5 separate regions of the Homo sapiens genome follow, and regions 1, 2, 4 and 5 are each reported to be linked to region 3. The links are microRNA targets in miRTarBase. Many come from high-throughput screens and were not tested one by one. Region 3 holds a microRNA gene; each other region holds the end of a gene's coding sequence.

Evidence for each region. The annotated mature microRNA hsa-miR-6888-5p reads AAGGAGAUGCUCAGGCAGAU and lies in region 3 at 1,698-1,717, shown strand. An mRNA with a match to its seed (bases 2 to 7 or 8) in the 3' UTR can be bound and repressed. Matches are read on the target gene's strand: a 7mer-m8 pairs with bases 2 to 8, a 7mer-A1 pairs with bases 2 to 7 and ends in A, and an 8mer does both.
Region 1: the mRNA of MDFI is a reported target of hsa-miR-6888-5p. Seed matches in the 3' UTR shown: 7mer-A1 at 394-400.
Region 2: the mRNA of FUT1 is a reported target of hsa-miR-6888-5p. Seed matches in the 3' UTR shown: 7mer-m8 at 2,869-2,875 and 7mer-m8 at 2,546-2,552.
Region 4: miRTarBase lists LRRC51 as a target of hsa-miR-6888-5p. Seed matches in the 3' UTR shown: 7mer-m8 at 3,080-3,086.
Region 5: the mRNA of PSMD11 is a reported target of hsa-miR-6888-5p. Seed matches in the 3' UTR shown: 7mer-A1 at 1,813-1,819 and 7mer-m8 at 2,113-2,119.

Annotation. Positions count from the first base shown.
Region 1 is chr6:41,653,300-41,657,299 of GRCh38, forward strand. It overlaps MDFI (MyoD family inhibitor), which reads left to right. Exons shown (of 5, transcript NM_005586.4): 5 at 20-945. The coding sequence ends at 276. Among named protein-coding and RNA genes, the nearest start is that of MDFI, 17 kb to the left of the region's middle.
Region 2 is chr19:48,746,536-48,750,726 of GRCh38, forward strand. FUT1 (fucosyltransferase 1 (H blood group)) reads right to left here. Exons shown (of 2, transcript NM_001384359.1): 2 at 1,476-4,191. The coding sequence ends at 3,649. It overlaps IZUMO1 (izumo sperm-oocyte fusion 1), which reads right to left and starts at 374. Exons shown (of 10, transcript NM_182575.3): 1 at 1-374. RefSeq lists enhancers at 1-654, 655-1,440.
Region 3 is chr2:159,185,143-159,189,333 of GRCh38, forward strand. It overlaps MIR6888 (microRNA 6888), which reads left to right and starts at 1,693; the gene lies at 1,693-1,759. TANC1 (tetratricopeptide repeat, ankyrin repeat and coiled-coil containing 1) reads left to right here. Exons shown (of 27, transcript NM_033394.3): 15 at 649-757; 16 at 1,760-1,882. RefSeq lists an enhancer at 460-629 and a cis regulatory region at 545.
Region 4 is chr11:72,095,311-72,099,310 of GRCh38, reverse strand. LRRC51 (leucine rich repeat containing 51) reads right to left here. Exons shown (of 6, transcript NM_145309.6): 6 at 2,416-3,932. The coding sequence ends at 3,791. All of the region lies in intron 5 of LRTOMT (leucine rich transmembrane and O-methyltransferase domain containing), which reads right to left. LAMTOR1 (late endosomal/lysosomal adaptor, MAPK and MTOR activator 1) reads left to right here. Exons shown (of 5, transcript NM_017907.3): 2 at 55-200; 3 at 453-530; 4 at 896-1,022; 5 at 1,397-2,019. The coding sequence ends at 1,489. Among named protein-coding and RNA genes, the nearest start is that of LAMTOR1, 6.0 kb to the left of the region's middle.
Region 5 is chr17:32,479,917-32,484,107 of GRCh38, forward strand. It overlaps PSMD11 (proteasome 26S subunit, non-ATPase 11), which reads left to right. Exons shown (of 14, transcript NM_002815.4): 12 at 230-281; 13 at 573-715; 14 at 837-3,403. The coding sequence ends at 715. Among named protein-coding and RNA genes, the nearest start is that of CDK5R1, 5.0 kb to the right of the region's middle.

The DNA of each region.
Region 1 (4,000 bases), not on the chromosome of region 3:
CTCCACCGCCACCCCGCAGACTGCTGTGTCCACTGCATCCTGTCCTGCCTGTTCTGCGAGTTCCTGACGCTGTGCAACATCGTCCTGGACTGCGCCACCTGTGGCTCCTGCAGCTCGGAGGACTCGTGCCTCTGCTGCTGCTGCTGTGGCTCTGGCGAGTGTGCCGACTGCGACCTGCCCTGCGACCTGGACTGCGGCATCCTGGATGCCTGCTGCGAGTCCGCGGACTGCCTGGAGATCTGCATGGAGTGCTGTGGGCTCTGCTTCTCCTCCTGAGCCTCTGTCGGGGGCTAAGCCAGCCTGGCGCCCCTGCAGATTCCAGCAGGGTCCCTCTGAGTGGGGCCAGGCCCAGGACTGTCACACAAGGCTTGAGAAGCCCCCTCTCCCTGGTCCTCTCCTACCCACCCATGTCCTCTCAGAACCCCAGCCTTGAAAATAGTGGGGGGCACTCAGAGGGGCCACCTCCTCAGCCGTGGGTGGTGGGCCCATGGCAGAGAAGCCTGAACTCTTTACTGGGTTACCAGGTTCATACATTGCTGAGGACCTGACAGGACAACCTAGGGGCAGGGCTGGGGTGGGGACCGCAGGGGGCAGCCAGGGCTGGGGAACACTGTGAAAGTTACTTGGGGAGGGTGGGCCGGTGGGGCCGTAGCTCTCTACCTCTCCCTGCTCCTGGTGCCTGCCTCTCTCCTCCACCCCAGGCTTAGAGGACAGAAAAATGTGAAGAGACGCCCCACCCACCCTCAGCCAGCCCTCTCCAGTCTCCTTTCCTAGGCTTTTTTGGGGGCCTAACCCACGCAGTGACCCCAGAGGGCAGGGCTAGGCGAGAGCCTGGGGTGGGGCGGGAGGGGGAACAGTATGGAAAAGACTGGAAGGGGAAAGGAAGGGAAGGGAGGGAGGGTCTGTTCTATCTGTTGCTGTAAATAAAGATATTTGTCCATCTCAGATTTCCTCAGGACTCATGACTAATTGCCATGGACCCTGACTCTCAAAAGCAAACGCCCCCTACCACCGCTAAAAAGCACCCACATGGGTGAGGCTGCCCTGCCCTCTGGGGGCCCTGCCTCTTCTGCTTTCTTACCCCAGAAACTGCCCTGCCCTTCACGTTCCCCTCCCTTCTTCATGTTTCCCACTAAGGGAAGAAGGTTAAGGGGGTGCTGTCTCCCACCATTATTTCCTTCTTCCCACCAAGGGGAGGGGAAGCCCAGAGGGAAGAGTTAACCTTGGCATGGAATTAATTAACAGCAGATGTGTTCGGGTTTTGATTAATTAATCTCCTGCTGACTTCAGCTTCTCCAGCTCTATCCCATGAAGTCGCTCCAAGGCATAGGTGATGCCCATGACAGTGCCAGAGGGGTGCCTGGGAGGGGGCTACTCCAGGCCTGGGGCAGCCCAGACTTGCCCCTGGGCTTCACTGGAGGCCCAGTGGGGGTCACACACCCAGCCTCAGGCATCCCCCTATTGCCAGGCGTCTGAGAAAGAAGGAAGCCTTGTCAGGACTGCATGGGCCCCTACGGCCATCTGTGGGGCGGCCTTGGAGTGCAGAGGGAAGGGCCTGAGAAGCAATGGCGGCTGTGAGGATCGCAGGGCCGCACTGGGGGCAGCTGGACCAGCACCCCCCACACATATCCTGGACCTGGAGGAGGCCAGGAGAGGTCCAGGGGGCATGAGAGGCTCTGGGACAGTTGGGGCAACTTGGAGAACACTCAGCTGATGAAGGCCTTGAGACGGGGGCTGCAGGGGTATTAGTGGGCACTGCTTCCAGGAATGAAGGCTTGGAGTGGTTCCGAGGGATTCTGGAAGGAAGGAGTGGGGACTGGGGAAAAGGGCCAGATGAAATCCAAACTCTCTTAAGGAATGTCACAGGAGGGAGCAGCCTATGGCCTTGGGAGTGGGTTTCATTGCAGCAGGAGGAGGAGGTTCTAACAGGCAACGCAAACTAGCCCCCCACCCCCTCCCCACTCCATCTCCACGCACACACGCCTCACTTCACCAGCTTCAAGGTTTTCTGACCTCTGAGAGCACACAAGAAATTCAGGACACAGAGAGGAAGGGACCTGCCTGGGGTCTCACAATCAAGCCGGTAGAGGGTCCCCGAGGCACCCCCAGCACTCATGTATCTATTTGTGCGTATTTTTATATATTTTCTTAGTTATTGCCTGCCCAAGGTACGGAAGGTTTGAAAGTCTGATCTGTGCACACACAAGCATTTACATGTATGTGTTTTCTTTTTTTACGAAGATGTGAGGATCCTGTACACACTGCACTGTACCCTGTTTTTCCCACCTGGCCATGTCTTGGGGAGCTTCCTTCCCAGCACATGGAGAGCTGGCTGAGTTGCCCTGGATGGATGCGCCACAGTCCAGGGACCCCCAGCTCTGCTTAATCCGCTCTCAAGCGCTTTGGTACAAACCAGGCTGAGCGAGGCACACCCTTTTGCATGAATGAGCTGTATCGGCAGAATGTTCGTGAATGTGGGATTGCTGGACCTACCATTGACAGGACTGCCTGGCTTTCCTCTGTGAGGGTGTTCCAGCCTCGGCTCACTCAGCCTCGGGGGCATCCACTTCTCCCACTGCCCTCGAGAGACAACGGTGGGAGGGTTTCCCATTCAGTCCTCAAGGCTGGGGTCTGAAGGGCGTTAGGGAGGCCAGATCAGGGGGTGAAGGGGCTCCTGACCAGCTCGATATCTGGTCCAGGTGGGCAGGAAGGCCTGCTCCTGGCCCTCCCTGCTCCGCAGGGCTGTGGCAGGAAGAGGCGCCTCTGCAATCCAAACAGCGATTTCCTGCTGCAGGCTCCAGGCTGTTTTCTTTAGGACAGTGGCTGAAACCCTAGAGGCTAAGCTGGGTTGGGGCGGGACAGGGGAAGGATTTAGCCAGCCCCCCAGCACACACACACACACACACACACACACACACTCACACACTCACACACACACACACTTCACACCTGTATGCACACACACATACACTCACACAGACTTTCCATACAGTCACGTACTCACATACATTCCGCAGGCTCATGCATTCCATCACCCGCACCACACACACACTCACACCACATCTACCCACACACGGACACACACTCACACATTTCACAGCCTGCAGCCGCCGCCACCCCTGGCCAGCCTGAGGCTGGGCTGTGGAGACTCATGCCTATCCATTCAAGCTTCGTCCCACACCTGCCCTGCCTTCCTCACCTCCCTGTCTTTGCCCAGGTGGCCCTGATCCCTGCCGGGCAGCAAATGGCAAAAGCCCTGGCTCTGGGCCCTTCCCTCTCCTCATGGTCTACCACAGGCTCCCAGGCTCTGCTTTCCAACGGCTGGGCTGAGCCAGGAGACAGTTTTAGGCCTGGCTGTGCTGTGGGCCCCGGGAAAGAGGCCCTTTCCTCCCCAAGCCTGTGTGTACGACGGAAGAGTGGGTAGACTGCAGCCACAGTGTCCAGGGAACACCTGCCTCTCTCCAGTCTTCTTTCATCTTTGGAGCAGCAGATCAGGCCACTTTTGCCTGGGAGACATCTTAAGAGGCCACCCCGCCCCCTGGGTTGTCTAAACCAAGGCAAGCACCCCCTGCTTGTGGGAGAGAAGGTGGTGAGGCCAAGTTTAGCCATCTGTGGCTAGTACTGTCCATGACCACTCAGTGATCTTGTGCGCCAAACCTAAGAGGGGTGGCCCCACGGCAGAGCAAGTAGCTGAACCAGGGGGTGGTTTGTGAGGGGAGGGCAATCAGCCGGACCCCTCTGCCTCCATAGTCTCCATCAGCTTCTCCCTGTATTTGGAACTTTAACTGGCATAGCCTGTTCTCATACTCAGAGCGGGGCAAACTGAGCTTCAGGCCCCATGGCCTCCATGGCTCCAGAGCTGCCAGGACAGAACACCGCTAAGCAGTTCTGACACTGGGCTGAGCAGGTCCATCCCTGCCCCGTGCCATCACCCTCAACAGCTTCACCTGCTCCCCAGGGTGATGGTCCGGTTGTGGGGGCTGGGGCTGGTCTCTGGGGT
Region 2 (4,191 bases), not on the chromosome of region 3:
CTCCCAATTTGCAGGGCGCACCCTTCCGCTTAGAAAAAGGAGCCCCGATGCATCCTGAACAGTGATGCACCCTAAACAGCCGCTCCCCGACCTTGGTTCCCGATTTGTGGCCTCTAACACTAGGGTTCATTGAGGAGCCCGGTCCAGGTTCTGAGGGCTTTTAAAGAGGAAGCCGGGGTCATGACCACCTACGCTAATTTTCCCAGGGGTAAAATCAAGGATTGTGTTGGGGACGAGGGTAAGGTTGGTTGCGTGAAATCGAGAGCTTTTCGACGGGGTCTGAGTCACGGACGATCCCCTCTCCACAAGGAACTCCTGAAACCACCCCCTCCGAGCTTCTCACGTAGGGGCCCGAATTCCTTTATAGATATTCCTTGGGGTTTTCCTCGGCCCCACCCAGAAACTCAACTCTGTCTGATTGGACTGCAACAAAGGGAGGTCCCGCCCATCGCTCCATGACGTCACAGAGGCTGCAGCCTTTTTGGACTAGAATTTTCCCAGCATCTAGGGAAGAGGAAGCCTCCTGACTACTCTGGCTTCCAGAGTCAAGGACCGGACTCAGGCCTTCAGTTTCCTCCCCTCCCCTTGCCCCAGGACCCAGGCTTTGGGCTAGATCCGGCCCCCCAGGCCGCTGCCGCCCCCACCGCGGTCCTTGGAAACGGCTGTCGAGCCACGAAGTGGACATTTTAGCCCTAAGACTACAACTCCCAAAATGCCCTGGGGCCTCTTTCTCTGTAGCTGACTGACGCTGCCAACCTCATAGCTTTCCGGGAAATGTAGTTCAGTGATAATCCGCTCCCTCCTCCGCCTCTTCTGCCCACGCGGAGGTCCCAGTGGGAGGAGAGGACTGGGGGCCAATACTGACAGTCCAGGAGTGAGCAACTGGGGGCTCAGACGTTAGGGTCCTGGAAGGTCTCTCTCTCCTGTGTGATAGAAACAGGGAACCAGAAAAACAGGGACCACAACTCACACAAGTCCAGCAACAAGGGGCTGTCAGATCTAAGTAGGGACAGTACTCCCAATCACGAGTAATAAAAATCCTCAGGGCCCGGCGCGGTGGCTCACGCTTGTAATTCCAGCGCTTTGGGAGGCCGAGGCGGGCAGATTGTCTGAGGTCAGGAGTTCGAGGCCAGCCTGGCTAACATGGTGAAACCCCGTCTCTACTAAAAATACAAAAATTAGCTGGGCATGGTGGCGAACGTCTGTAGTCCCAGCTACTTGGGAGGCTGAGGCACCAGAATCCGAGAGGTGGGAGTTTGCAGTGGGCCGAGATCACACTACTGCACTCCAGCCTGGGCCACAGAGCAAGACTCGATCTCTGAAAAAAAATAAATTAATTAAAAAAAAATAAAAGTCTTCAGAAGTACCCCACCTTTTCCTCCACTCTCTTACACACACACACACACACACACACACACAAACCCACACACACATACACAGTGGCTCTGGCTCCAAAAAAGCTACAGAGACACGGGTTAGTGCTGTAGACTTTTAATTCATACCTCCTGCTCTCTCACCCGTGGCAGCTGAGTTGGGAACAGTACTGTAACAATTGTAACTGTAACTCCCTGATAAGCCTACAGGCATGGGGTCTGGATGAGTAGACAGGGGATGTGATCAGAGCTGACTATGTTTAAGGTTTCTTCTTTCACCCTCCAAAAAACAGCAAGGGGCTCCTGAGATCTCGACAACCCCGTCCACCTTGGCCAGACCTCGTGCTCCTGCCTGGATCTGAGGCTGGGTCCAGGGTCTGCCTACCTTTAGATCGTTTTATCTCAGACCTGCCCAAAGCCAGATGTAGTGGTTCTGGGAGTTCAGGGACAGACAGTGGTTAGCAATGAGCACGGTACCTGCCAGTTTGTCACAAGCACAGAGGGTGTGTTTATACCTGCACACTTCCAGAAAACAGATCCCAGACCCTCAGCAGCCCACCTGCAGACAAAGACCAACTTCCTTCATTGTGAGAGGCAACCTGAACTCACACCCAATATATGGAGCTCTTGGCAGTTTATGAGCTTTAAAAAAAAGTGTCCCTGGATCCCTGGAAAGTTCTGCTCCAGAAGCTGTACCATTTTGGCAGTGATCCCTCACCCCACGTTCACATTTTAGCCTGTCTGCTCAAAACAAACAAAAAAAAGTCTTTGAGGGGCTGTGGGGCTTGTTGGACAGAGTCCCGCTCTGCTCACCAACTACCCCAGCTTTTCCAGAGACTGTGAACAGAGCAAGACGCTGGCCAACTAGAGATGGTTTGTTTTCCATCTCAATTTTTCCAGCAATGGTGGAACATTCATTAGATGCTACAATTAGGTTGCACATTCATTAGATTCTTCACTTGGCCCGGTGTGCTGGCTCACATCTATAAACCCAGCATTCTGGGAGGCCAAGGTGGGAGGACTGCTTGAGCCCAGGAGTTGAAGAACAGCCTGGGCAATATCACAAGACCTCGTCTCTACAAAAATTAAAAAAAATTATCCGGGCCAGGCATGGTGGCTCACGCCGGTAATCCCAGCACTGTGGGAGGCCGAGGTGGGCAGATCACGAGGTCAGGAGATCGAGACCATCCTGGTTAACACGATGAAACCCCGTCTCTACTAAAAATACAAAAAAAATTAGCCGGGCGTGGTGGCGGGCGCCTGTAGTCCCAGCTACTCAGGAGGCTGAGGCAGAATGGCATGAACCCGGGAGGCAGAGCTTGCAGTGAGCTGAGATCGCGCCACTGCACTCTGGCCTGGGCTACAGAGCAAGACTCCGTCTCAATAAATAAATAAATAAATAAATAATTAAAAAAAAAATATCCGGGCTGGGCACAGTGGCTCATGCCAGTAATCCCAGCACTTTGGGAGGCCAAGACAGGTGGATGACAAGGTCAGGAGATCGAGACCATCCTGGCCAACATGGTGAAACCCTGTCTCTACTAAAAATACAAAAATTAGCCAGGCATAATGGCCTGTGCCTGTAGTCCCATCTACTCAGGAGGCTGAGACAGGAGAATCGCTTGAACACAGGAGGCGGAAGTTGCAGTGAGCCAAGATCACGCCACTGCACTCCAGCCTGGGCAACAGAGCGAGACCCTGTCTCCAAAAAAAAAAAAAAAAAACTAAAAAGATTCTTCACCTTAGTTATCTGGATTTCCAGAACCCCATCCTGTCCATAAGGGCCCTGCAGGGTTCTTCACAGGCATCAAACCTGGTCCTCTCTAGAACAAGTCTCCCTCTAGAATCACTCCAGAAACACAGAAGGGGACTTGGTGAATGCTTGCTCTGGAGCAATCATATGCTCCTTCAGTCTTTGGAGGACCCAGGGGAGAAGTAACCCCTCTTCTAGAGTAGACCAGAGGGAGAGTTCCCCATTCCTGGGGGCAGCCATCTGGAAGTACTGTAGATATGGGCTGGGAAGAGCAGGTGGGCACTGTGGCTTCTAGAACTGCCTGCCAGCCATCAGGAAAAGATGTTTTGCTAGTTCTAGAATATTCAGACAGTTCCAGAAACGTCCCCCTTCTCTCCAACTCTCCCAACTAGAATCACTCTGGATACGGGCACCCATTTGCTTCAGGAACACCACAAGCTTCTCCAGAAGATGCCAGGCCTCTGAAGCCACGTACTGCTGGCTCTAGAAAGATCAGGCTACTTCAGAAAGTCTCCCTGGCTCTCAAGGCTTAGCCAATGTCCAGAGTGGAGACAAGTCTGCATTAATGCCCACCCACTCGGGCAGGAAGGCCGCCTCCGGCTTAAAGATCTTCAGGAACTCAGAGTCTGGCAGGGTGAAGTTGGCCAGGTAGACAGTGTCTCCGCCAGCCAGGTAGGCAGCCCAGAAGCCGAAGGTGCCAATGGTCATAATGGTGTGGTTGCACTGTGTGAGCAGGGCAAAGTCTTTCCACGGTGTAGCCTCCTGTCCATCGCCAGCAAACGTCACATCGCCCTGGGAGGTGTCGATGTTTTCTTTACACCACTCCATGCCGTTGCTGGTGACCACGAAAACGGGGGCTTCGTGCCGTGCCCGGAACCAGTCCATGGCCTGCCGGAGGTAGGCGCTGTCGCCCACCACACCCTTCCAGCGCTGAGGCATAACCTGCAGATAGTCCCCACGGCGCACGTGGACGCCGACAAAGGTGCGCGGGCGGTCCCCTGTGCGGCCCAGGCGGAGCTGACCCAGCACACTCTGCGCCTCTTCCCGAAGGTGGTCGTGCAGGGT
Region 3 (4,191 bases):
GGAATAAGCAACTCTGTGTGTCATTTAGAAACTAATTGGCTCAAAGGCATGGGATCCACAGGAAGACAGAGTGAGTCCTATGGACATGGAGGGCAAATGGGCAGGATGGCCCTTTCACAAAAGGGAAATGGGCAGGAAAATAGGCAGGATGGTACCTTCACAAAAGGGAAATGGGTGCTGTTGGCTGGATGTCCACCATGTGCCAGCCACAGCAAACCCACTTAGATGCCTTAGCCTTCTTCTCACCACAAGGACTTGTGTGCCATCCAAGCCTAGAATTCTCTGCTTTCTTGATCATGAGCTGTCACCTAGCACGGCCTGGCTTTTCTCTCCTTCCCACGTGAGACCTTGTCCTTTGTCTACCCCTAGTGGTGGTGATCCTGAGGGGACCTGAAGGCTAGGCCCAGGGATGGTTCTGTGCTCTGTGTCTATTCATGCATGCATTCCAGAAACACATTTGAGTGTTCACCAAGTGCTCAGCACTTTGCTAGGCATTATGACTCAGATGAGACCCTTAGCCTCCCGGAGTTTACATCTTTGTCACGGGCATAAATCAGTGACTAAGGCAATGGGTGGTGAATTGAGGGTGGGTCTGCGGTGTGGTGGAATGGGCTCTTCTGCTGTGAGCCTTTGTATTCCTTCCCCTAGGAACGGGCACGCGCTCTTGGCATTCATGTTCTCGCGTCAGGAGGGCAAGTTGAACCGCCAGCAGACCATGGAGCTTGGCCACCACATCCTGAAGGCGCACATTTTCAAGGTGAGATGCACACCAACTTGGGGAAGGGTTTCTTTGTTGTCATTTTGAGGTTTTGCTTTGGAGATTTTAGACAGCTCTGTCAGCCATCCAAGAAACGCTCCATGCACCTCAGCCCAAATGCAACCTCCTCCTGCCTCCCCTCTCCAAAAGTAACCGCTGTTCTGACTCAGCCTGGGCATTTCCTTGCATTTTGCTATAGTTGATTGCTCAAGTGTATATCAGAGTGCTGTGCTTAAGTTTTACTTCTTTCCACCTTTAAATCTCTGATAAGTTTCTTTTTATCTAAAGGTTCCACTTTGTTCATTACTTTTTGTTTCCTTATTATTGATTTGTTCGAGAACCTGAGTTTCTTGACCTGTGTGATTTTGTACCACCTGGACTTTCTGACTGTGTTTGCCCAGGCTGGAGAGCAGTGGTGGGATCATAGCTTACTGGACTCAAGCCATCCTCCCGCCTCAGCCTCCCAAGTAACTGGGACTATAGGCACGCTCCACCTTGCAGGGCTCAGATGGTGATATTCTAATTCTGTCATTTATTCTTCCTCTAATTTACTTCCAACATGGTAAAACCTTGTCTCTACTAAAAATACAAAAATTAGCTGGGAGTGGTGGCATGTATCTGTAATCCCAGGTACTTGAGAGGCTGAGGGATGAGAATCACTTGAGCCTGGGAGGTGGAGGTTGAAGTGAGTTGAGATTGCACCACTGCACTTCCAGCCTGGGCGACACAGCAAGACTCTGACTCAAAGAGAAACTCTCATCTGCCATCTCTCTCCCAAGGCACAAAGTTAACCTAGTGAAGGCAGGCTGGTTCCTTGACCCTTGGTTTCAGGTAGTGAAAGCTCGCATGTCCAGGCATTCTTTGTGTGTGACCCCGTGCCTTCTGCAGGTATCTGCACCCTCTGCGGCAGACCCACTTTCAGAGTGACCCTGCAGGTGGGAAGGAGATGCTCAGGCAGATCTGTCTCTGATTGTTTCCAAGATCTGTCTCGATTGTTTCCAGGGCCTCAGTAAGAAGACGGGAATTTCTTCAAGCCATCTCCAAGCCCTGTGGATCGGCTACAGCACCGAGGGGCTGTCCGCCGCCCTGGCCTCTCTCAGGAATCTCTATACTCCCAACGTGAAGGTGAGCAACCTTCTGCACAGAGAGCCGGAGACCCAGCCCTGGCCGGCTGCTGGCCGTTCCTCCAACAGCCCTGTTTCCCTCTGCCCTGGGTGGTGGTGAGAGGACGCAGAGGAGCTTCTAAAGATGTGCTTCCCTGATCACACGGGCTTGGGTGCTGTATTACTCGTTCTTCCAGAAGTTTAGCTTTTCTTTGGCAGGAAGATGTGGGTGGTCAGGGCTGCTCTGAGCACATGTGGTGACTGTTTCACAGCAGATGTGATAAGGAAGCAATTTACAAAAGAAATCAAAGATCAGAGAGATTTCTAGGGAAAACGGATTTTTTAAGTGTCCTGCGTTACTAATCTGGACCATCTCTTCAGAGTTCATGGGAAATTAAGCATGGATGGGTGATGCATAGAGATAAGTACACAGAAAAACAAACATCGAGGTTTCATGTATCCATATTTCTGCCTATGGAAAGGGTATCAGCATGGCCTTCTGTGGAGCCAAGAGCTTCTTCACTTCTTGGTCAGTGGCTTTCATGTCATGATGTTCCACTCAGCTTTTTAAGGTAGATTTTTCTTCCTGATTTCATGTAGCCTGGGAATCTGAAGCACACAGAGGCCAAGCAGCCTGTTAAGGCCACAGAGACAGTGTCCAGGCCTTTCAGCTTCAGGCCCTGATGTACCCGGCTGCCTGTGGAAGCCCTGGGTCAGTTTAGGGAGCCAGGTCTTCCCCCCGAATCACTCACATTGTTTCATCTTTCATTTCAGCTAAGAGTGTATCTCTCGGCTTCTCCATAACTAATAAAATTCTATAATCATAAGAAAGATGAGAATAAAAATGGCAATATGTTTTCATATGTTAATGAATTTCTGGGCATAGAATTTATTTTAATATGGAAATAAGTAAATGGGAAACATCTGTTGAGTACAAGTTTTTAAGACAGTAAATTTAAAGGTACTGCATAATAGTGTAATGAGCATGGCCCTCCTGAGATTATAAACTTTGCTCTTTAACGTATGTGCGATTTTAAGAGTTAATCATTTTTACTTTGTTTTGTAAAACTCCAGTGTCACCTACATCTACACCATCTCCGAAATTATTTCTATAATGTGGTTATAGAATCTTAAGTCTTTTCATTATCCTTCTGTTTCTTTTATCTTTCAAGGGGGGAAAACGGTTTTCACAGGATCTTGAACAAATTACAGTAATTTTAAATTATGCATGCAATTAAGGAACTTTTTTTAGAGTGTATTAAATGTTGTCATACAGGAATGAATGTCATTTTGAACAATAATTGCAGTTTGCCACTTTGGTAAATTAAAGTGACTTGCTCTGGGATGATTACTTGGTAGATGGATTTTAGTTGCAGTGGCATGCCAGCAGTCTCTAACCATGTTGTCTCCTGTGGCCAGGCCAGGATGGGGCCAGCCTGGGCCCCGCTGGCCCACTGGAGTCCCATCCAGCCAGTGGTTTTGTTGTACCATCTCATAGGACTGGTGGCCAGCCGCAAGCTGTGGCCTCAGGAGGATTTAGGTTGCAGTTCTTTTCTCAGCTGACAACAGAAAGGAGAGGAGAACAGGAGCTAGGTGTGGCCTTTGGCCCAACTTCCCTTGGCCGGGAGATCCAGTCATATCCTACATCATAGTCAGGAAGGACACATTTTAAAACAATTGTGCTTGTGTGAGCTTCCAGTGTACTTAGTGGGAATGCTGATGCTGCCCTATGGCCACCCTGGCCAAGCCTCTTCTGGTCCTCATGATCGTATTGCCTCGCATATCCCCAGCTCCCTTCCTGTTTTCCTGTTTTCATTAAATCCAGAAGTTGAGAGATACCACCACTTCTGAGTGTTGTCCAAGGAGGGCTTCTGTGATCATGGTCGGAAAATTTCCATATCGTTGGGGGAAAATCTATAGGATGAATCATTTAAACAGGTTCCTTCAGCACAGTGCCGTCTCAGCCAAGACTGCTGCTCTGCCACCTGGCTGCTCTGTGACCATCATTAGCTTTGTGCTTAGCGCTCAGCTCGGCCTTACTCCCTCTGAGCCTTGGCTTTCTCACCTATAAAGTGGAGACACAAAAGAGGCTGTCTCTCAAGTGATGAGAAACCTTACTGAGATGTTAAAGGTACTGGGAACATACTTGGCATTTATTATGTTTACATGAATTGTTGTTAGTGCTTTGCCTCATCTCTGGAAACAGTGGCTCTGCTGTAGGCACCTGGGAAGTTTTGGATGTGCCAGTTGGTGCTTGTTAACAGGAGCTGCCGACCTTGAGGATGTGATGGTTGCAGGTGACTTACCTCTGCCCTCATCTCGGCATGAGGT
Region 4 (4,000 bases), not on the chromosome of region 3:
AAAGGCAGGATCTACGGGTCCTGGGGCTGACTTCTCTCCCATGACCACTTCTAGGACCGAGAGGAGCGGAAGCTGCTGCTGGACCCTAGCAGCCCCCCTACCAAAGCTCTCAATGGAGCCGAGCCCAACTACCACAGCCTGCCTTCCGCTCGCACTGATGAGCAGGCCCTGCTCTCTTCCATCCTTGCCAAGACAGCCAGGTAAGTGTCAGAGGACCAGGCCTGGGTCAGAGCTCCTCTATCCATATTAAAGGCTAGGATAGAAGGAGCCAGGCTCAGGACATGGGGGATGGGACAAGGTCACTGGGGAGAGGTGCCTCCATGTCCAGCCCTGCTCCAGTAGGCAGGAGGGAAACTGGTGTCAGATAGCCCTGGAGTTGGTACCTGGCACTGAGTCCTGTTTGTCCTTCTCGGAAGCACCTGTCATGTCATCTCTGTCTCCTCTCCCCATAGCAACATCATTGATGTGTCTGCTGCAGACTCACAGGGCATGGAGCAGCATGAGTACATGGACCGTGCCAGGCAGTACAGGTGAGCACCTGGCCAGCGTGGGTCCCTCAGGCTACTTGGGCTCCCACCCTCCATCACTGTTCCAGCTTTGGAGCCTGGCCCCTAGTCCAAGCTTCTCATTTGGTGCAGCCCTGGAGACTGACCACAGATCACTTGGGTGCTTCAGTAGTTATTCATGTCAGCCCTGTTTACCCTGTGACACTCTTGAGGGCGCTGAGGCCAAGGGAGATGGGCCTAGATTGAGTCTGTGATGAGCTGAGACCTTCCCTCCCAGATACCCCTCCTCGACACCCTGCTTCTCTGGCCTGAGGGGATGAGGCTTACCTGGGCTGGGCAGGGCAGACTGTGGCTTAACTGCCTACCCCCACCCCCTCTCTCTTGGTCAGCACCCGCTTGGCTGTGCTGAGCAGCAGCCTGACCCATTGGAAGAAGCTGCCACCGCTGCCGTCTCTTACCAGCCAGCCCCACCAAGTGCTGGCCAGTGAGCCCATCCCGTTCTCTGATTTGCAGCAGGTGAGACACCCCTCACCTGCCCCTGCCCACCCTTCTCACACTGCCCAGGGTATGGCAGAGGGTTCACCCACTCTGCCTCAGAGGAGGTAGGGAAGGTGGAGTTAGGGAGCCTGGTAGCCTTGTAGGCCCCAGCTCCCTCCCACCTCGTTCTCTTAACTTTTTATGTCTTTCCTATCTCCTTCCTGCAACCTTTATTGTTTCACTCCCCTTTGTTCTTTTCCTTCTGTCTCTCCCATCCCTGTCTTTCTCTTTGCCTTCCTGTTCCCCTTCATTCCCTCCTTCTCCATCACCATCTAATCTCCCCTCCCCATTTTTCCTGATTGCCCTCCTCACCTGTCTCTGTTCCTCTCCTCCCCGGCCCCTCTCTGTCTCAGGTCTCCAGGATAGCTGCTTATGCCTACAGTGCACTTTCTCAGATCCGTGTGGACGCAAAAGAGGAGCTGGTTGTACAGTTTGGGATCCCATGAAGAGAGGGGTCCTTGGACAGCTCTTCTCCTCTCTTCATCCCATCTCTACCCCACCCCCTTGGCCCCCAGCCTCACTGCGGCTTATACAGTACCCTAACCTGCTACTAATCACAGAGAAAAATGTGAAGAAGGAGGAGAAGAGGAAGGCTAGAAGCCTGAGCAAGTGAGGGTAGAACCTTTTGGGACTGGCCTTTGAAGCTCTGGCCAGGGATGGGGTGGGGGCCAAAAGGACAGAGCCTGGTATGTCTTCATAGTCATTGAGAATGTGGAGATACCAGTTTGGGTGGGGGGTGATCACCAGGGGACCTAGGGAGATCCCCTTCCCACCCTCTCTGTTGGCCTCAGAGTCACTCCTGCCCCCTCTCCCTGACTTGGTGCTCACATGCACCTCACTAGGGTTTGTGACCAGGGTCTGGATGAGCTTGAATTTGAATGAATTGAGTTTGTATTTCTAGAACCCTGGGTTTTTACATGTTTGGTCTTTTTTTGTTTTGGTTTGTCACCCTCGATAAAGGAAGTATATTCATCCATGTGCTGGTTCTGGCCCCTCTGTTCTACCCATTCTACTTTTGATTACTTAGGTCTATGAGAGTAAGATGGGGGGAAGGGGACATCTTCCAGGGATATTGAAGATGAACCCAAGAGACAAGGGTTTAGGGTGTCAGCTCTTAGCTGAGACCTGGCTTGGGCTAACCTCAGACTGGATGAGACTGTTCTTGTCCCTTGTCCAGTGATGATGGGAACACTGTCAAAGCTGAACAGACCTGAATCTGAGGCAGCTTTGATTCTTGGGGGCCCTGCCTCAGACTCAATGGAATTACCAACAGCCCCTGGGGGTGAAGGGAGACATGGCGGGTTGGGGGGTGGAGAGAGAAAGCAGACCAGGCTCTTCTGGGAATACCTAATATGGAGTCAGCAAGCAAATGTTTTTAAGCAGAAGATTCTTTTTATCAAATGAAATCTTAAGCAGAATCCCAGCATATAAAACAGAATGGAATTACTTTGATCTGATTGAAGTGGGGGCTGGTTTCAGAGATCATAGGCCATCTTCTTGGCCTGTCATGGAGGCCTGTGAGGCATCTCTACAGACCCTGGTACTCTGTGAAGAGTTTGGAAATTACTGATCTACTTTAACCCCCAAATCTCTAAGCTGAAAAGTACAAAGGGGCCCAGAGAGTTAGATAAATTTCCCAAGGCTGTGTGGTAAACCCACGTCTCCAGTGTCCCAGGCCAGCAGGCCTTTCCCTCAATTGCCTCCCTTTTTCAGCAAAATAAGACTAGAGCTGGCCAGGTGCAGTGGCTTATCCTGTAATCCTAGCACTTTGGGAGGCTGAGGTGGGCAGATCACCTGAGGTCAGGAGTTTGAGACCAGCCTGGCCAACATGGCGAAACCCCATCTCTACTAAAAATACAAAAAAAGGCTGGGCGTGGTGGCTCACGCTTCTAATCCCAGCACTTTGGGAGGCCAAAGCAGACGGATCACCTGAGGTCAGGAGTTCAAGACCAGCCTGGCCAACATGGCGAAACCTTGTCTCTACTAAAATATAAAAAATTAGCTGGGGGAAGCCGAGGTGGGTGGATCACAAGGTCAGGAGATGGAGACCATCCTGGCTAACATGGTGAAACCCCGTCTCTACTAAAAATACAAAAAATTAGCCAGGCGTGGTAGTAGGTGCCTATAGTCCCAGCTACTTGGGAGGCTGAGGCAGGAGAATGGCGTGAACCTGGAAGGCGGAGTTTGCAGTGAGCCGAGATCGTGCCACTGCACTCCAGCCTGGGTGACAGAGCGAGACTCCGTCTCAAAAAAAAAAATTAGCTGGATGTGGTAGCAGGCGCCTGTAATCCCAGCTACTCAGGAGGCTGAGGCAGGAGAATCGCTTGAACCCAGCAGGCGGAGGTTGCAGTGAGCTGAGATCGCACCACTGCACTCCAGCTGGGGTGACGAGTGAAACCGTCTCAAAACAACAACAACAACAACAAAATTAGCCAGTCATGGTGGCAGGCGCCTTTAATCACAGCTACTGGGGAGGCTGAGGCAGGAGAATCTCTTGAACCTGGGAGGCTGAGGTTGCAGTGAGCCAAGATCGTGCCACTGCACTCCAGCCTGTGTGACAGAGTGAGACTCCGTCTCAAAAAAAAAAAAAAGAAAAGAAAAGGCTAGAGCTACTTGCAGTTGCCTGAGTTAGAGAACATCTCTACAAGGTGTAAGTGACTTCTCATCTGCTCAACAGCTCAAATTATTTATTGTCAAACCATGCTGTCTATGCTTAGGCCTTTAGGACTACTAGGGTCGTGGGAGCCTCAAAGTGTATTCTGCTTGGTCCAGGCCTTCTTGGGCTTGATGTTCATGCGTTTCCAGACTTCAGCTGTGGTGCGGTCTGCTTTGGTGACCCCACTGAAGTCGAACGTGGTGATACGGGACAGGGTGCACAGCACATATTGCCTGTGGGGAAGACTTAGGCTGGGGGCCAGCACCCCCACCAGAATCCCCTTCCCCCTCCACTAGTTGCT
Region 5 (4,191 bases), not on the chromosome of region 3:
GAATGGGACGGGGTGGCGAGGAGGGGTGGCACATGCACCTGATTGGCCTCATTGGAAAGCTCCCCAGCTTCTCAGTGGGGAATGGGCAGTGTGGACTAGAGTAGGAGTTGCATTGTTGCTATTTTGTTTTCAGTCCATTTGGCCTAAGACCCCTCCAACAAAGCTACTGTGTCAGGGTGATCTCTGACTAGTGGATACTGGTCCCTTTAATCATGTGCTTTGATTTTAGGCCGACGTGGAAAGGAAATTATCACAGATGATTCTTGACAAGAAATTTCATGGTAAGTAACAGTCACACAGGCAAGGGGGCTGGTGGTGGTGATGAGATGGTTGAAGAAGTTTATTTTCAAAGAAGATGTTCTATTTGTTTCCCCCGATGGTTCACCCTGGGGTCCTGGCCCCTCTTCCCTGTGATGAGAATGTGTAATAAGCATGTGTACATGGAATAGGGAGATGAATTCTATTTCCCTTCTTTTCTGGACACAGTGAGTCAACTAGGGAGTGGGCTGCTTCACAAACACTTTTGTGTCTAACCTCATCTTTTACCTGGGTTGCCCTTGTGTTTCTTGCAGGGATTTTGGACCAGGGGGAGGGTGTCCTGATTATTTTCGATGAACCCCCAGTAGATAAAACTTACGAAGCTGCTCTGGAAACAATTCAGAACATGAGCAAAGTAGTGGATTCCCTCTACAACAAAGCCAAGAAACTGACATAGGTGAGTGCTGGCTTCAGGACCCCAGGGCTGGGCAGCTCTGTCTTCTGCGTGTCGAGACTGAAAACCTCCTCCTGGTGTCCTCATGGCTTCCTGATTGACACTGCTCTGTCTTCTCTTGCAGAGTTGGATCTGTAGCGGTCCTTTGGAGAGTGTGTGTGGCGGGAGAGTGAAACCTTGGGGGAAAATGCTAGGAGATTCTTTTTTCTTTTTGTTCTACTTTTCGCTCGGAAAGTTTTTAAATCCTCATTTGGTGCATCTGTATTCCAGCCAATAGGTGTGCCAGTTTTCATGTAATCTTTACTGGCCCAACTTGGGAGTGGGGAAATTGCTTAAAAAAAAAGAAAAAGAAAAAAAAAAAGATTATTCTAAATAAAAGGAAAAAGGCTTACACTACCTAAAGCTGTGCTCTCTGCCTCCTGGGAGAGGGCCGCAAAGCCAGGCACCCCGCCAACCACTGGGGGTCCTAATCCACCTGCTGGGCATCACCTCTCCTCCTCCTCAGAATTGGGTGTTTGCTGACCATCAAAAGCAATGACTTTTTATTCTGTTTGTACTGAACCAAAACAAACAACTGTGTATAGACTGCTGTTTTCTTTTTTATTTGAAATGAGGCATTTTGGTGTTCTTTCCCCTACCATACGGCCTGTCTGCCCTTCCCTCCCCACATTGGCTCCAGCAGAGTAGCCGAAGGTCCTGCCGCCGCCGCCACCACCACCACCACTGCAGCAACAACAGCAGCAGCAGCAGCAGCGCCTGCATAGCTCCACTCTGACCTGTGAAGGAATGGGGATGAGGCCAGGAGCTAGTGTCTACCACGGCCACACAGGGAGCAGTGTGGGCCCTTAGCCCCCAAGGGGCCTGCTATGCATGTGGCTTTTTTTTTTTTTTTAAACACAGTAAACTAGATTAGTCGTCAGTGTTTTAATTGCCCCTCTTCTCCTCTCCTGCATTCCTCTCCTCTCTTCTTTCCTCTCTGTCCCTTCTCTTTCCCCTCTCAACCAGGAGACCATCATGTCTCTCTGCCTTCCTCCTCTCCCCTCCAGGGGAGTCAGGCTGTCTGTGAAAGCCATGAGCTTCTCTCCCTCTCCCACTCCTCCTCTCCTACTTTCAGATGGATTTATTCCTTTTTTAAACAATGAACATCGGAAATGAGACTGTGGGGTGTGGTTTCTCTCTCTCTTTTTTTTTTAATTTTCTTTGTTGGGTTTTTGAGCAACCTCATGTCCCCTTCCCAGGGAGCTTTTTAATTTACCTCTTAGAACTCAAGTGGATGGGAAGTAGAGCACTATGTGTCAGTATGCTTTGTTTTCTGACACGATTACACAGCGAGGCTTTAATGCCATTTGGGTAGGTGAGCTTCTGCACTTCTGTTGTGCTGAACTGTATTTTCTTCTCTCATCTCCTCTTTGTCTTTTTCTCTTTTCCTCTCCTTCCTGCCTTCTTCTGCTGGCCTCCTTTTCTCTTTCTTTACCTTCCTTGGATTATCCTTCCAGGTTTTCATAATAAATTTATATTTTGTAAAAGGATTTTGTTGTACCAGGTTTTGCATCCTCACTGAATCTGACTGGCTTTTATTTTCCTCTCCAAAATCAGGTTTTTGTTCTCAACATCTTTCCCCATCATGTCTAGTCACTGTTTTGGTTTTGGCACCATCAGTATCAAATGTACAAACGGTTCTTGCTAACCAACACCAGGTATATCTGATGTTCAGATGAGTTCCAATAAAAATAATTTTTTTTTTTTTCAAAAGGTGTCTTTTTCTTGAGTGCTGGAGGGCTTCCAAGCAAGTCCAGACAGCTCTGTGTGGCCCCACACTAGTCTAGCTCTCATCTGGCCAAAGCTGTTATCTCATTTGTGTAATGGGAGTCCTTAAGGTAAATTTGGGGTCCAAACTTGGAGGGCTTTGGGGGCAAGAAAGTTGGTGTGTGAGTTCTGAGGTTGGAAATGAGTTCAGGTGTCTTCTTCCAGGGCAGCATGGTCCAGTGAGCACATGTAAGTTTGGGCAGTAGATCCTCTGAGCCTACTTTCTCTTCTACTCAGTGAGGATGCTGCTTCCTTGGCAGGTGATTGTGATGTGAAGCTTAGTAAGTCATAGACGTGCAGGTGTCTGGAGAGTCCTGACATGCAGTTGTGGTTTCGTTTCCTTTTGGAATCTTCAAAGGCAGCGATTTTCATATTGCCTCACACCCTGGCGGGGGCGGGGGGCTCTGGGACCACTGGGGGACCTGCTAAATCCTCTTCAGTCTGAGCAGTTCAGCCATTGTCAGTTTTAGTATTGTGTCTCTGTATTTCACTTGCAGAAAGAGCTTTGCTTCTATAAAGGACTTTAAAAAGTACTCCAAAGAGATCTAGTTTTGGAGTAGAGGGGAGATGTTTTCTCAAACTTAGGGCAGTCCTGAGATGCTCAGGCAGTAGCCCTTTTCTCAGTTCCCTTTGCGGGTCTTGGTCAGATGATGCCCTCTAGACCCGTGCTGTCCAATATGTAGCCGCTAGCCATGTGCAGCTGTCAGGCCCTTGCAACGTGGCTGGTTCGAGCTGTGATACACTGCAAGTGTAAACACAAACCAGACTTCGAAGGCTTAGTATGATAACAAAAGAAAAGGAGTGTAAAATATGTCAATAACTTTTTTATATATGTGTTGAAATATTTTGGGTATTGGGTTAAATAAAATATATTATTAAAATTCACCTGTTTCCCTTTTACTTGTGTAATGTGGCTGCTAGAAAATATAAAGTTACCTATGTGGCTTCTATCTGGACAGCGCAGCTCTAGACCTCCAGGACCAGCAGTTGTGTCACTGCCTCCTCTCCCAGGCCTCTCATGACCTGAGTCCAGGCACAGCTGGGAAGGTCAGCTGGCCGGTGGGCTGGCCTGGGCCCGGCTCCCTCACCTCCCTTCTGGGCTCCAGCCTTCATGGTGCCAGGACTTTCTTGTGTGTTAATGAGACTCTACTGGAGTTGGGAGCAGAGGCTCTGGTCCCCTGCTGTGTGCTAGTTATGTAATCTGTGCTGCTCAGAAGGGCCACTAGATGCTGCTCTGTGATCCCTGAAAGAACAAAGCCGACTTCCTCAGGAGTAAGGGCTCAGGCCTGCTCTATTTGGAACCCTTCTTGGAAGCTGTAGCTGGCCCCCGCCTTGACCTCCCTCCCTCGGGATGCTATGGGAAGTGGGGCATGCAGGAAGAGTGGACTCTCCGGCAGTCCACGGGCAGCCCAGCCCAGCAGGGAAGCTAACAAGCAGGCTGGCCCTTCAGGCAGCTAGAGATAGGCAATAGGCTAAGTAGGCTGATTGATGGGGGTGGGATTTGGAAATCTTCCCTGCAGTTCTATGATGAAGGCAGCTAGGAAGAAAACAGCTCTGCCTCATTCAACTGGGTCTGCCTTCTGGGTCCTTGGTTCTGCCATTTCTGGCAGTTGACTGTCCTTTCTTCCTTGCTTCCAGTTGGAGCAGTGATAGGAACTGGGGGTGGGGAGGTG